3 separate regions of the Homo sapiens genome follow, and regions 2 and 3 are each linked to region 1. Evidence: fine-mapped expression QTL. A gene starts in region 1. Each other region holds a variant in brackets. All regions are shown on one strand. Distances are between the middles of the regions. Region 1 holds the start of TRPM6 (transient receptor potential cation channel subfamily M member 6). Region 2 overlaps TRPM6 (transient receptor potential cation channel subfamily M member 6). Region 3 overlaps TRPM6 (transient receptor potential cation channel subfamily M member 6).

Region 1 (5,230 bases):
AAAAATAAAAAAGACTCTCTTTCCTACCTCTTCAGTGCCTCTTCCAGTAATATGAAGTTAAAACCAGTTACTGTGAGTGCTCACCTGATTTTTGGTTCTTAGAAAGGTGCTTTTTTTGTGCGTACATAGTTGTTGAATTTGGTTTTCCTACAAAGGGGATGATCGGGGCCTTCTATTCCACCTTCTTGCTCCACCTCTTCCCAGTTTCATTTTTGATTGTTCATCTTCCTCTTATAAACTTGAGCTACTTGTAGACTGGACAATGTCTTATTCATCTTTGTTTTCCTGGTGCCCAGCATGATGCCTGACAAACAGTCTATGTTCAGGAAATATTTGTTGGCCTGAATCAAACCACACTAGACTACTAATGAATATTTTAAAATTTAATTTTCACAGCTACCCTGGGCATAGGTATGTTTGTGCCCAGAATAGTTTTCTTTTTATTTATTTATTTTTTGAGATATGGTCTTACTCTGTTGCCCAGTCTGGAGTGCAGTGGTGCCATCATAGCTCACTGCAGCCCCGACCTCCTGGGCTCAAGCAATCCTCTCACCTCAGCCATCCAAGTAGCTGGCACCACAAGTGTAAGCCACCACGCGTGGCTAATTTTTGTTTTTTTTTTTTGTACAGATGGGGTTTTGCCATGTTGACCAGGCTGGTCTCGAAATCATGAGTTCAAGTGATTCTCCTGCCTCGGCCTCCCTAAATGCTGGGATTACAGGCATGAGCCACCATGCCTGGACAAGAAGTTTTATATACAAGTTTGACAACTGATTAAAGTGCTTGTGAAAGATACAGATTCCTGGGCCCCACCCTATAAATCCTGATACAAGAGATCTGGGTAGGGTGGTTGGAGCCTGGGAATCTGCACTTTTGACAAATGCCTCAGATGTTTCTGATACAGCTTGGGAACCAAAGGCAGCTTGTAAACTAGTACATTCAATGCTTTAAGCACTTCACATTGCCCTTGTATTTCAGGCTCTAAATGCCTTGAAGCTTGATCTGAAAAGAATATATGATCATCCTAACATGTAGGTTTACCAAAGATGGTAAACTAGAAGATGGTAGACTTCTTACAAATCTTGAGTTCCAAATGGCTACTCTTCTTGGTGGGTCTGAAGATTTCTGAGAACTCTCTGACCCAGTCACTGTAAGAGACCTAACAAAGAAATTGTATGGAAGACAGAGATCGAGAAGGATTTACTTGCCTTAGAAGAGCTTTCAGAACCTGTTAACTGTTTACAGATTAACGCTTTAAAGAAGATGGGTTAAGGAGAGGAAAGGAGATTAAATGTGTTTATAGAAGAACAACAAATGCCTAGCACTTAGGGAGGCTGAAGTGGGTGGATTGCTTGAGTTCAGAAGTTCGAGACCAGCCTGGGCAACATGGTGAAACTCCGTATCTACAAAAATTACAAAAATTAGCCAGGTGTAGTGGCTTGCACATGTAGTCCTAGCTACTTGCGGGGGCTGAGGCTGGAGGATTGCTTGAGCCCAGGAGGTGGAGGTTGCAGTGAGCCGACATAGTGCCACTGCACTCCAGCCCGGTGACAGAGCGAGACCCTGGCTCAACAACAACAGCAACAACAACAAAAAGAAAAACAACAAAATGCCAATACACATATGAGAGATTACAATTTTCCAATAAACAAAGAAATGCTTATTAAAACCACATTGAGAAATGAGGGGAAAAAACCTGTAAACTGTCTGCAAATGTGAATTCACCAGGCAAAAATTCATAATAAACTAAATGAGTAGGTGTCCCTAATTTTAAGTCGGTTGTCAGGGATGAATGACTAGCATTGTTAATTACACTTGTAATAATGTGAGCATCATTTTGCCTGTGTGCTTTGTGCCACCTCTGCCAACACCCTGGGATCCACCCCAAATCACTGACCACAACCTTAATCAAGACTGCCTAGGCCGGGCATGGTGGCTCACGCCTGTAATCCTAGCACTCTGGAAGGCTGAGGCATGAAGATCGCTTGAGTCCAGAGTTTGAGACCAGCCTGGGCAACATAGTGAGACCCCATTTCTAAAATAAATAAATAAATAAATAAATAAATAAATAAATAAATAAATAAAATTAGCCAGGCACTGTGGTGTGTGCCTGTAGTCCCAACTACTCTCTGGAGCCTGAAGTGGAAGGATCACTTGAGCCTGGGAGGTCAAGGATGCAGTGAGCCATGATCCTGCCACTGCACTCCAGCCTGGGCAACAGAGCAAGACTCCATCTCTAAAAAAAGAAGAAAGAAAGAAAGAGAGAAAGAAAGAAAGAAAGAAAGAAAGAAAGAAAGAAAGAAAGAAAGAAAGAAAGAGAAGATGCCTATCCAGAGGAATCCACCAAAACAAAACAAAACAAACAAAAAAAATGAAAAAAAAACCAGAAATAACAAAACATTTGTATTGTATGTTACACATGAAGCACATTAAGTGATTTCCTTTGTTCATTGTAACCTTGTGAGGGAACTGGATTTTTGTCCCTATTATTCCCATTGCATAGATAAATAAACTGAGGCTTGACATGCCCAATAAGTCACAGGTAGTAAAAGCAGTGCGTTAGCTTAAATCTCTGATCTCCTCACGCCCCACACTGACTCAACAGTAACAATACATTACTACAAAGGATGTCTGTGATGACAGTGGCCATCCCATTTGATCCTCGTTATTCTTCTTTTATCGAAGGAAACTGAGAGTCACCTTCTTTTCTAGGCAGTTAGGTAACTGAAGCCGAAAGGTATTGTGACAGATCCACTGGGCTGTAAAAGGCAGCGTGTGGAGGTGGAGCCCAGAGTTTCTGCCTCCACAGTTAAAAGCTCAGACAGGGCTTTGGGAGCAGGGCCTGCAAATCAAAGATGAAAGAACAACCTGTCTTGGAGCGCTTGCAGGTAAGCTCAGGCTGCTCGACTGGCGGGGAACAAGGACCTTAGGCGATTCGCTAGATCTGCGCCCCCGGCCTTAGATAGAAGTGGGTGGGGCCAGGGACACTACATCTAACGAGGATCTAGAATAGCTAGGATTTATGAAATACCGGCTTTCAAGTTCTCTGGTCTCCACCCAAAGATGATTATCCTATCTAAGGTAGTGTACGCTACTACAGGGCAGGTCCCGCAGCCCCCGTTTCAAGAGCTGGGATGCGGCCATAGCGGAGGTGGTGTCAGAGCGGAAACCTAGCGGGGGTCGGGGGTTCAGCTCGGGGCGGTGGGAAACACCCCGGGAGAGGAGGCAGCTCTGATTCCGCTCCGGGCCGGAGGGAGAGGAGTTCGGAGGTGGCTTGAGCTGAGAATCCGGAGGAGAGAAGGCGCGTTTTGAGCTGCCACGGGCACAGATCTCAGACCCGGACGCTGACTAGCCGGGGGTCGCGGCTTTCCGAGGCGGCTGGAGAAGTGCCCAGACGGCCGTCCCTCCGCGCCCCTGCGCGTCCCCGTGCGCCCAGTGTTCCCCGTGCAGGAGTCCCGGAGCGATGACAGCGCCGGTTACGGTAAACACCCGCCCCGCCGCAGTCCGCTTCCTTCCCCAACGCGGCGCCGCCCGGACTTGCAACCTCAGGAGTCCCCGCTGGCTCCTCTCCACCGCTGGCATATGGCGCAACAGGAAGTTCTGGGGGCTTGGAGAGGGAGGGTGCTCCTGGCTGTTGGGAGAGCACTGGAGACGCTTGGGAGAGTAGTGGAGATCCTGGTAATTTCTTGGTCTCGCCTATTTTGTCTGGACTTTCTCACACTGTGTATGAAAAATAAGTATAATTGAGCACATTGTATTTCAGGAATAGTCCAGGCAGCTTAGCAAACGTTAGCTCATTTCAGCCTGCTCTGATAAGAACATATGCTCTGGAGCCAGGTAGCCTGAATTAGCATCCCAGCTGCATCACTACCTGTGATTTTGGGCGAGTTAACATCTGTTCTTCGGCTTTCTCATCTGGAAAATGGGATAATACGATTTGTAGTTTCAAGATGAATTGAAATGCTACATGCCATTTGCACTTAGAATAATGCCTGACGTATTTAGCAGGTTGTAAGAGTTTGGGATTCTTAACTATTTCATCCTGGCAGTAATCCTATAAAGTCCAAGTATCCTGTCTCTCCCATCTCCACCGGTTTACAGGTGAGGAAAATGAAACCAAAGGAGAAAAGCAGATTTGAGATTTGAACTCAGGTCAGTGCTTTAAGACACGGAGAACATAAAAAAGAAAAAAAAAAAAGAGAAAAAAAGACACTGAGAACATAGATGTTCTAGTCATACACATCATTTGTGATTATTTGTTCTAGGGAGAAATGATCACCTTTAATTGTTAAAGTGGGAAACGAGTTATTCAATTTCTTTCCCCCTGTATACAGATTTTGATGTTTCACTGTCATCTGCTTTGGGTTCTTACAGGACTGATAAAGCGTTAGCTATTTTGGCCAGACTGGAATCTGGGCTTGACTTTAAGAATCTGGTTGTTTCTTATGTTTCCCACCAGGAGTGGTAACCATCTAGGGTAGGAGTTAGCATGAGTTTTGTTTTTTGGGCCAAAACTGGAGACTAGTACCCTTTGGTAGTGTTAAACTTGTCTTGATAGACAAGGGCATGAATAGCATTTGAGATCATTATACCAGAGGTGAAGGGAAAGAATCGTGCAATATGTTGCAATTTGTCACAAATTTTGGTCTTATCTTGCCTATTTACAATTATCTATCATAGTTAATTTTTTGGATAGGACATCTATGCCAAAACTATCAAGCATTTGGTAAATACTGTGCCTGAAATATGGCTTCTCTCTTTTTCCTTCTTTTTCAAATTTCTCACTTTTTATTTTATTTTATTTTTTTGAGACAGAGTCTCGCTGTGTTGCCCAGACTGGTCTTGAACTCCTGGGCTCAAGCAATCCTCTTTGGCCTCCCAAAGTGCCAAGATTACAGGCCTGAGCCACTGTGCCTGGCCTCACTGTGTTTTAAATCATGAGTTTTCAGTATAAACAGCCCAAATAATCTGAGTGATTTTCATTATACTTCTGGTAGAATCAATACCATGCTGGAACTGAAAGTGACCATCCTACCTATAACTCAGTTATTCCTTTGTGACACATCAGAAGTCTACATGGCAACTATTTTCTGTAAAATCCATCACTGTTAGGTAAGATATTATGATGTGAGTCTCACTAGTGCCTTTTTTCTTTACTTCTTAGTTTTATTGAAGTTTTACGTTCTCATTGTTCAGAATCAATTAATTCCATAGGGTTAATATCTAAAAA
Region 2 (5,230 bases), 75 kb after region 1:
AATGATCTTGCTACCTTGGTCTCCCAAAGTGCCAGAATTACAGGCGTGAGCCACTGTGCCTGGCGTACAATTTTTAATTTATTTTTGGGTAGATTTCTATCTTGTTATTTAAAACTCAAAGTTTACTTTTTGCTTTAAAATGTAGTAGGTGCTCACATTAGAAATTAGTGAAAACATAAAAAAGAAGAAAGATTACCCATAATGCTAATGATAATCACTATTAACATTCATTTTAAAAGATTATAGTTGTGGCTGTATTACAGGTATATTATTTTTGGGCCAAGCTAATACATGCACATTGTTTAAAATATCAAATGATATTAAAAGGCAATTTTAAAAGATGGTAGTTCTCTGCCCTGCTAATCACAAGAGCTAGTACTTAAGATGTTTTTGATTTTTCTAACACTTATAAATCTCCATATTTCTAAATAATGTCATATTGCTATATTTTGGTTCATTTAGTTTCAGAAATTTTTCAACACTTCTGTCTTGTGGGCCTCACGGCTGCAATGTGGACCAGTTTCCTTCTCCTCCTGGTGCACAGCTGTCATCCCGGGATGCACCCTCATCATCTTGGGGATTCCCTTGCCTCTTTCCCATGTTAGAGGGCATGTCTTCTATGTCCTTGTCTTCCTCTTTGTTTACTCATTCATTTTGATGGTATACATGTGTCAATAAGTTCCTGAGAAAGGGAGTATGAGAGATACATATTTTGAGGACTTACATGTTTGGGTGTATTTTAATTCATGATTTAAACTATTTTTTCCTACAGAAATTTGAATGCCTAGTTTCCAGCACCCAGAATTTCTATTGAGAAGTAAACACTTCTTTTTTGTTTTCAGATTCTTTGTCACCATTTTTTTTTCCTATCTGGAAGTTAAAAAAATCTTTCTTTTCCAGTGTTATGCTGTGTGTTGTTGTGAGTCTCTGTATCCATTTTGTTGGGCACATGATTTCAACTTGGCAATCATATGTTTTCATTGCATTCCATTCCCTTCTCTTCCGTAACACCCCCAACCTTTGTTCTCTTTTGTAATTCCTATTATTTGAATATTGGACCTTATGGACTGCTCCTCTAATATTCTTATCTCTTTCCTCCCATGTTCCCTATCTTTCCTTTGGTAGCTTTGCTGGACTTTATTTTTTTATTTTAATTTTAATAATCAATTAACTAATTTATTTATTTTTGAGATAGGGTCTCACTCTGTCACCTATACTGGAGTGCAGTTGCATGATCTCGGCTCACTTCAACCTCCACCTCCCACACCAAGCAATCCTCCCACCTCAGCCTCCTGAGTAGCTGGGACCACAGGTGTGTGCCACTACACCAGGCTAATTTTTGTATTTTTAGTAGAGACAGGGGTTTGCCATGTTGGCTAGGCTGGTCGAACTCCTAGGCTCAAGCAATCCACCTGCCTCAGCCTCCCAAAGTGCTGGGATTATAGGCTGAGCCTCAACTTTAATTTTCAAGCCTTCTATGAAGCTTTTCTTTTCTGGTAGCATACTATGAATCTATTAATTTCTTCTTTTTTTAGTTTTTAATTTTTGTGTGCTCACAGTGGGTGTATATATTTATGGGGTGTCTGGGATATTTTGATACAGGCATACAATGTGTAATAATCACATCAAAGTAAATGAGGTATCCATCCCCTCAAGCATTTGTCCTTTGTTACAAACAATCCAATTATAATACTTAATTATTTTAAAATGTACAATTAAATTATTATTGACTATAGTCATTCTGTTGTGCTATCAAATACTAGATCTTATTCATTCTTTCTAACTATTTTTTGGTACCTATTAATTATCCCCCTTATCCCCCTCAGTACTCTTCCCAGCTTCTGGTAACCATCCTTCTGCTCTCCATCTCCATGGATTCAATTGTTTTCATTTTCAGCTCCTACGAATTATTGAGCACATGTAAATTTGTCTTTCTATGCCTGGCAGTCTATTAATTTGTGACAGCAAACTTGCTCCCTGATTGCACCCTCCCCTATGTTTTTCATTAGCATCCAGAATCCAATATTTTCTTTTTCTTTGAGATGGAGTCTCACTCTGTGGCCCAGGCTGGAGTGCAGTGGTACAATCTTGGCTTATTGCAATGTCCACCTCTCAGATTCAAGCAATTCTCCTGCCTCAGCTTCCCGAGTAGCTGGGATTACAGGTTCCTGCCACCACACCTGGCTAATTTTTGTATTTTTAGTAGAGATGGAGTTTCACCATGTTGGCCAGGCTGGTTTCGAACTCCTGACCACAGGTGATATGCCTGCCTCAGCCTCCCAAAGTGCTGGGATTATAGGCGTGAGCCCCTGTGCCCGGCCCAGAATACGATATCTTCTTTTACCTTTTTGAGGATATGAATGAGAGCTCTTTTGAAGTTTTCTTCTTCTTGGATTGTCTGCTTCCTGCTAGTTGATGTTTTTTGATCTGTTTGTTTTGGTCTTTTTGTTTAAGTGTAGCGGATAAAAAACTCTTTGGAAATTCCGAGCCTGTAGTTGGAGGTTGCCTATAGGTTTGAGTTTCACAGTAGGGTGATCTGACTGCCATTAGTTCAGGGGCCCCCAGATACCAACATATTCATGTCTTTTCTCTTGTATTGGTGACATTATCAGAAAAGAATCCTCTAGTTCCCTGACTGGAAGGTGTAAGCCTTGTTGCTAGTGTTATGGGACTCAAAGGGGAAAGATGACTGGAAAGACCCCAACATTAGGGATTCAGCATGTATACATGTATTTTGTTTTTGTTGGAATTCTGTAGTATAAATCTGTTTGTCTCTTGACATTTTCCACTTCTACTATTTGGCTTTCTGGTGACTGCTCAGTCAATTATGACTTGACCATCTGCTTTCCAGCTTCCAAAATGTTGCATTCTTGTCTCCACTCTTGTCCTCCTTGTCCTTGTAGATTTATTTTGTAACAAAAATCCCTTTACTGTAGTTTTAATGAAGTTTTGAGTGGGAGAAAAATTAGATGAGCATGTTCAACTTGCCATTTGTGCCTAGAAGCCAGGTAGAGTCTAAATGGACACATGACAAGTAACAAAAACAAAAGAAGAAGAAGAAACCTTGAATGTCTATCAGAATTGCATTAAGCCTGTACATTCATTCATTTGGGAAGCTTCGAGATCTTTACAATAA[T/A]CAGTTTTCCCATCCAAGTACATGGGATGTTCTTTGATTTATTCAAGATGTCTTCACTTAAGTCCTGCACATTTCTTAGTAAGACTATTTATTCATTCATTCATTCATTCAAGACAGGGTCTTGCCCTGTTGCCCAGGCTGGAGTGTAGTGATGCATTCATGGCTTACTGCAGCCTTGACCCCTTGGGCTCAATTGGTCCTCCCACCTCAGCCTCCCAATTAGCTGGGACCACAGGTGCATGCCACTATGCCTGGCTAATTTTTGTATTTTTCGTAGAGACAGGGTTTTGCTGTGTTGCCAAGGCTGGTTTGGAACACCTAAACTCAAGCAATCCACCTGCCTCAGCCTCCAAGGGTGCTAGGATTACAGGTGTGCGCCACTGAGCCTGGCCTAGTAAGACTGTATTTAAATTTTTTCCTTTTTTTTTTTTTTCTGTACCCACTGATGGCAGGATTTTATTTTAAAATTATTGTGTTTGTGTAATTTTGAGTTCAAAAACATGTAATTCTTTAGTTATTTCTACTTTCTTAATTGTCTTTATATTTCTTATTTGTGCTTTCTGAAGCCTGATGCCCTGGAACAAGCAATGTCAGATGCTTTAGTGATGGATCGGGTGGATTTTGTGAAGCTCTTAATAGAATATGGAGTGAACCTCCATCGCTTTCTTACCATCCCTCGACTGGAAGAGCTCTACAATACAGTGAGTATGGAACATTTCATCAATCATTTCCCTCCAGATTCAAGAAGAGCAAGGATCATCAAGCAGACCATGCAGAGGCAAAACTCCTTATCTGAGGAAATTAGAAGTAGCTGGACTTCCCTATTATCTGAAGCTGGATCTAGTTCCAGGCTTCTTTCCCCAACATTTATAAGTAACTAGAATTTCTGTACATCTTCAAAATGCATACATGTTAAAACTCATTGTGCAACCCTTCCTGACATGAAGGCACCAAAATGGCTACAAATGCAATCATTTATCATGACCTACATGGCTAACATGGTTCAAATTACCCTTAAGCTCCCACTTTAAGGTCCATAAATACTCCTGAGGAAAATCCACTGCTGTGAGCTCAGTTCTCTCTTGCTGAAGCTCCCTTCTGCACTCTTCTCCAGCATTCTTTCCTTCTAATAAAACGTTCCTTTTTCAAAATCTATACTGTTGTCAGTAAATTATTCTTACTACCTGCAAGCCAGTCACTTTCCATTGCCAGGGGTCTGACACCTTGCCTGGTAATTATTTATTGATCAGCTTAAGACTTATTTATCTCCTTGAATATTCTTGTACAAAGATAGTTTATAGATAGACTCTTCAACCAAAGGAGAAACATTCTTACCAATTCTATTTTATCCTAGTAAAACATAGTTAAAGACTAAATTGTGAATAAGAACAAATTACCTTTTATTGAGTTATTGGAAGTATCTCAACCTAAGGCCACTATTAAAATACTGTTCCTGTACCTTTCCCATGTAAACCCTTTGTTGAAACTAGCCTGACTTACACACTGTGAAAACACCAATTGCTCAAGCCATGGACACTTCTTGAAATAGCCTTCCTTGTCCTTTAAATCTTATTCTTTCTTCAATGATTTATTCAAGTCTTGTCTTCTTGATTACTGCAGTTAGTTCACAGTGATTTGTTCCTAGAGTACCAATTATTTGTAACTCTTTTTGAGCCCACACATATTGTTGGTTATTTTTTAGTGTAAGTAGCCACTCTTTTCTATTATTATAAACACTCCAGGAAAATAGTGCTTATATTTGTCATTGAATCCCTAATTGAATATAGTAAGTATTCAATAAATATTTGTTGCTGGAATGTGCTCGTGTGATAGGATTTGTAATTGTATGATAAAGGATAGTAATAAATTACCTAAGATTCATTTCTATCTCTTATCACATAAAGTCTTTATTATCTACATATTTGCATCTTGCTTTGAAAAATATTTCATATAAATACATCTTCTCTTGGAAAACACCTTCTTTAGAATTAATTGGCTTAAGCATTGTTACTAAAAATATTGAACACAATTTTCAGTATTCTCAGTTACTTATGCATTCTGAAGTAAAGGTTTTACCCCCCAGCACATGGTAAT
Region 3 (5,230 bases), 40 kb after region 1:
AGCTGATTTTTGTATTTTTAGTAGAGATGGGGTTTTACCATGTTGGCCAGGCTGGTCTTGAATGCCTGACCTCAAGTGATCCGCCCGCCTTGGCCTCCCAAAGTGCTGGCATTACAGGCGTGAGCCACTGCGCCCAGCCCTGTTCTAGTTCTCTGAAGAGATTGTAAGTTGTAGACACTTCTGTTTCCCCTGTAACTTCTCACCATGTGCTACTTCATATGCTGCTCAATACAGCAGATGCACAATAAGTATCCTTAGCCCACTGATCACCTCTTTCAGAGCAGGGTCCTGCAACACTGAGCATTGCTACAGGTTCTCAGTTACACAATGAAAGGAAATGGAAGGCATTAGAGACCACCTTGTCCAACCAATCCTTACATTACTGCAGTTGAAGAAATAGAGGCTTTGGGAGAGTAGAGATTTGCATGACGTTGGCCATCTCCTGGTCCAGTGCTTTTGCTCCAGGACACATCGCTTCCTAGATGCTTCCTGTTTATGGCCTAGGCTGCCTGCACTTCAGCTCTTGTTTTTGGTTCCCCTGCTTGTCAGGTACAATCCACTGTTCTATAGCCAGGATTTTAGTCACCTAGAGCTACCATAACAAAATACCACAAACTGGGTGGCTTAAACAACAGAAATGAACTTTTCACAGTTCTGGAGGTCAGAAATCCAAGACCAAGTTGTTTGCAGGGTTGGTTTCTCTTGTGATCTCTCCTTGGCTTGCAGATGGCCACCTTCTTATTGTGTCTTCAGATGGTTTTTCTCTGTGTGCACACATCCTGGGGATCTCTCCTTCTTCTAAGGACATCATTTCTATCAAATTAATCCTTCATCCTTATGACTTAATTTAACTTAACTTTTTTTTTTTTTTTTTTTTGAGATGAAGTTTCACTCTTATTTCCCAGGCTGGAGTGCAATGGTGCAATCTCAGTTCACTGCAACCTCCGCCTCCTGGGTTCAAGCGATTCTCCTGTGTTAGCCTCCCGAGTAGCTGGGATTACAGGCACCTGCCACCACACCTGGCTAATTTTTTGTATTTTTAGTAGAGATGAGGTTTCGCCATGTTGGCCAGGTTGGTCTCGAACTCCTGACCTCAGGTGATCTGCCCACCTCGGCCTCCCGAAGTGCTGGGATGAAAGGCGTGAGACACCGTGCCCTGCTGAATTTAACTAAACTTTAAGGAGGTAATTAATGCAGTCACATTAGGGGTCAGAGCTTCAGCATATGAATTTTGTCAGAAAACAATTCAGTCCATAACAGCTAGCCACATTTCTCCACCATGTACTCAAATGTATTTGTCTCTATTGTCTCTTTGGAACATTTTGGAAATTGAGCTCTGGCCCTGTCTAGATTTCTTTACGTTTTTTTCTTCTCACTGTATGTATTTGTCATCAGATAAGCAGATATATAGAAGTTAAATATAACATTTACTAATGTATACTGCACCTTACGTAGTCCATGGAATTAATTGTGCATCAGAATATAGACACAGAAATTTAGAATGAAAAGCTGTCAAGAAGAATATTGACTCTTTCAGGCGGGGCATTGCAGGCATTACTATCTAGCTGGAGGCAGGGCAGTTGAGGAAAACTGTGGACCAGGATGCAATTTTTAATTAAAGAAGGTTTAGAAATTTGGAAGGAGTAGTCCCACCTTTTCTGCCATTTTACCTTCCATTGTTTCAGTTTCTCATGGGCCAAAAAGATTAAATAGAAAATCCCAGAAAAAAAGCAATTTATGGGTTTAAAATTGCGTGCCATTCAGAGTGGCATGATAAAATCTCTTGCCATTTGCTTTGTCCAACCTAGGACACGAATCATTCCTTTGTCCAGCCTAGCCATGCTACAGACGCTCCCCACCCGTTAGTGGCTTAGTAGCTGTCAGGGTTATCTGATTGACTGTCTTGGTATTGCAGTACTTGAATCCAAGTAACCCTTCATAATGGCTCCAAAGTGCAAGAGTAGTGATGCAGGCAATTTGGACATGCCAAAGAGCCATAAAGTGCTTTCTTTAAGTGAAAAGGTGAAAGTTCTCAGCTTAATAAGCTAAGAATAAAAGTTAGCTGAGGTTGCTAAGATCTGTGGTACAAATCCATCTTCTATCCATGAAATTGCGAAGAAAGAAAAAGAAATTCATGCCAGTTTTACTGCTGTACCTTCAGTTGCAAAATTATGGCCACAGGGCCATAATTTTGATAAATGCTTAGTTAAAATGAAACAGTCGTTGCATTTGTGGGTGGAAGACATGAACAGAAACCTGTTCTGATTGACAGCAATTAGGTTT[G/C]GTACTATCTGCGGTTTTGGGCACCCGCTGGAGGTCTTGGAACATATGCCCTGAAGGTAAGGGAGAACTACTGCTACATATATATTTTTTCTTGAGACGGGCTTCATAACTTCATTATTTATCTATTTTTCAGAATTCCTGAGTGTAGGCTTCATAACTTTAATCAGAGACACAAAGTTACTTATGGGTCTTAAAATCAAGAATGACAATGGTTTAGAGTATACTTTGTCTTTGACTATATATGACTATATATATATGACTTTGACTATATATGACTATATATATGACTATATATATGACTGTATATGACTATACATATGACTATATATATGACTATATATATATTAAAGCCAGTCAAATTTAGCAGTGGGGGGTTGTATACCAACTTTAGTGACACTAATGTTAGTAAGTTCTGATAACCTACTACCATCAGAGCAGCCTGCCTTTGACAATATTGAATGCAAATTAACATCTTAAAATAATGATTAAAAATCCCAGCACTTTGGGAGACTGAGGGAGAAGGATTGTTGGAGCCCAGGAGTTCAAGATCAGCTTGGGCAACATGGCAAAACCCCAAATTAGCCGGACGTGATAGTCGTTGCCTGTAATTCCAGCTGCATGGGAGGCTGAGGTGGGAGAATTGATTGAGCACGGGAAGTTGAGGCTGCAGTGAGCCATGGTCACACCACTGCACTCCAGCCTGGGTGACAGAGTAAGACCTTATCTCAAACTAAACAGTGAAAATTTTAAAAAGTGAGAATGTTATAATAATTTAAAAAAATTTTTTTACAAAGGAAATGTGTCCTTGCTAGTACTTGACATTGTCAGCCATTTTCAGTTAAAACTTGATGGTGTGTGAATAGCAGCACCTAATTGTGAAAAGACCATTGTTGGCTTGCAGAACACCTCGTCTGTGTACTCAAGGTAGCAAAGGAATAATGTCATGGTGGATTAGTGCATGGAGCCATGTGTGGTTTGTAGACTCATAGGACTGATGACTAGGCTTTTTGGAACGTGTAAACAAACCCAAGTCTGAAGATTTTAATAGATGAAGATAATTTCTTAAAAGTGTGCTTTTTAGAAAAATATTGTAAAATAGCCGGGAGCAGTGGCTCACGACTGTAATCCCAGCACGTTGGAAGGCCGAAGTGGGTGGATCACCTGAGGTCAGCAGTTCAAGGCCAGCCTGGGCAACATGGTGAAACCCTGTCTCTACTAAAAATACAAACAAGTTATCCAGGCGTGGTGACACACCCCTGTAATCCCAGCTACTTGGGAGGCTGAGGCAGGAGAATTGCTTGAATCCAGGAGGTGGAGGTGGCAGTGAGCAGAGATCATGTCACACTGCATTCCAGCCTGGGCAACAGAGAGAGAGACTCTGTTTCACAAAAAAAAGAAAAAAAATTCTAAAATATCGATAAGAAAAATGTTTTCAGTTTTTAAAGTTCCTGCTATACCTATCTAATTCTCATATAAAATGTGTCACTGAAGTTCATACCAGAAAACAATATAATTGTTTTAAATGAGAATTAGGTATAGCAAGAACTTTAAAATAATATGATAGGGCCGTTCTTGCAAAGGAGGTACATAAATGTAGAAATATGAATTTCCCTTTAAGAAGAGAATGAGCTTTAATTATAGGGAAAAAAAAGAAGCAAACAATTTGCGCCTTAAATGTCTGTTCATGTACTGGGCCATAAATTGACTTGTTTGTATTGACAAGAAATCTAAAGAAAACAGAAATTTAATATCTAGGCAGCTAAGCAGAATCAACTTACCTGATCAACTTATCTGTTGATTAATCAAGGTTAGGTGAAAGTCACAGTAGGAACTGTACTCAATTATTTATAATAAATGACAAATTTTCTCTGCTTCTTGATATTCATTTTGAAGAGATAAGAACTCTCTTGATGTCAAATTGATTTCCTAGGGAGGATATTTTTGTTTATTTTTTACGTAAATTTTTTTTAAATCATCCATCCCAAAATGTCAGAGAGGCTCTTATTACTCATCTAAATTATAACTCTTTCCCTCTACATTTGTATTTTTGTTAGTTTTATTCAACATGTTGTAGATAATGCATAAAATGATAAATTATTCTTACTTTTCGTTTTGTTTTGAGACAGAGTTTTGCTTTGTTGCCCAGGCTGGAGTGCAGTGATGTAATTTCGGCTCACTGCAGCCTCTGCCTCCCAGGCTCAAGTGATTTTCCTGCCTCCCTAGTAGCTGAGATTACAGACTTGCTCCACCACACAGGGCTAATTTTTTATATTTTTTTGTAGAGACAGGGTTTTGCTATGTTGCCCAGGCTGGTCATGAACTCTTGGCCTCAAGCGATTCTCCCACCTCACCCTCCCAATGTGCTGGAATTACGGGCGTGAGCCACTACCCTTGGCCTGTTTATCTTTTTGTGATTGGCTTCTTTTAATTAGCATAATGTCTTCAATGTTTTTCCATGTTATAGCATATGTCAGAATTTTCTTCCTTTTTAAGGCTGAATCATATACCATGGTATTTATATACCACATTTTGTTTGTCCACTTCTCCACGATGGACATTTGGGTTGCTTCCACTTTGTGGATATTCAGAATAATGCTGCTATGAACATGAGTATGCAAGAGATTTTTAGTACAGGCATACCTCATGTATGTTACTTTATTGTGCTTTACTGATATTGCATTTTTTATAATGTGGAGGTTTGTGGGAACCTTGCATTAAGCAAGTCTGTCAGTGCCATTTTTCCAGTGGCACATGTTCATTTCTTGTCTCTGCATCACATTTTAATAATTCTCGCAATATTTCAAACTTTTTTATTTTATCATTATTGTATCTGTTATGACAATCTTTAATCGGCGATCTTTGATGTCACTATTGTAATTGTTTTGGAGTGTCATGAACTGCACCCATATAAGATGGGGCAAACCAATTAGATAAATGTTATATATGT

The links. PIP is the estimated chance that this variant, and not a neighbour inherited with it, causes the effect. A credible set is the group of variants that fine-mapping cannot tell apart.
Region 2: its variant is the best candidate, but not a certain one, in a credible set for the expression of TRPM6 in whole blood (INTERVAL, PIP 0.69).
Region 3: its variant is the best candidate, but not a certain one, in a credible set for the expression of TRPM6 in whole blood (TOPMed, PIP 0.66).

What each region holds. Positions count from the first base shown.
Region 1 is chr9:74,885,482-74,890,711 of GRCh38, reverse strand. TRPM6 (transient receptor potential cation channel subfamily M member 6) reads left to right here and starts at 2,791. Exons shown (of 39, transcript NM_017662.5): 1 at 2,791-2,888. The coding sequence starts at 2,856. RefSeq lists an enhancer at 3,405-3,699.
Region 2 is chr9:74,810,906-74,816,135 of GRCh38, reverse strand. TRPM6 (transient receptor potential cation channel subfamily M member 6) reads left to right here. Exons shown (of 39, transcript NM_017662.5): 12 at 3,703-3,837. Among named protein-coding and RNA genes, the nearest start is that of TRPM6, 74 kb to the left of the region's middle. The variant T/A (reference allele first, on the strand shown) is at 3,137.
Region 3 is chr9:74,844,999-74,850,228 of GRCh38, reverse strand. The region is part of intron 3 of TRPM6 (transient receptor potential cation channel subfamily M member 6); the gene reads left to right. It also overlaps the pseudogene RNY4P1. Among named protein-coding and RNA genes, the nearest start is that of TRPM6, 40 kb to the left of the region's middle. The variant G/C (reference allele first, on the strand shown) is at 2,284.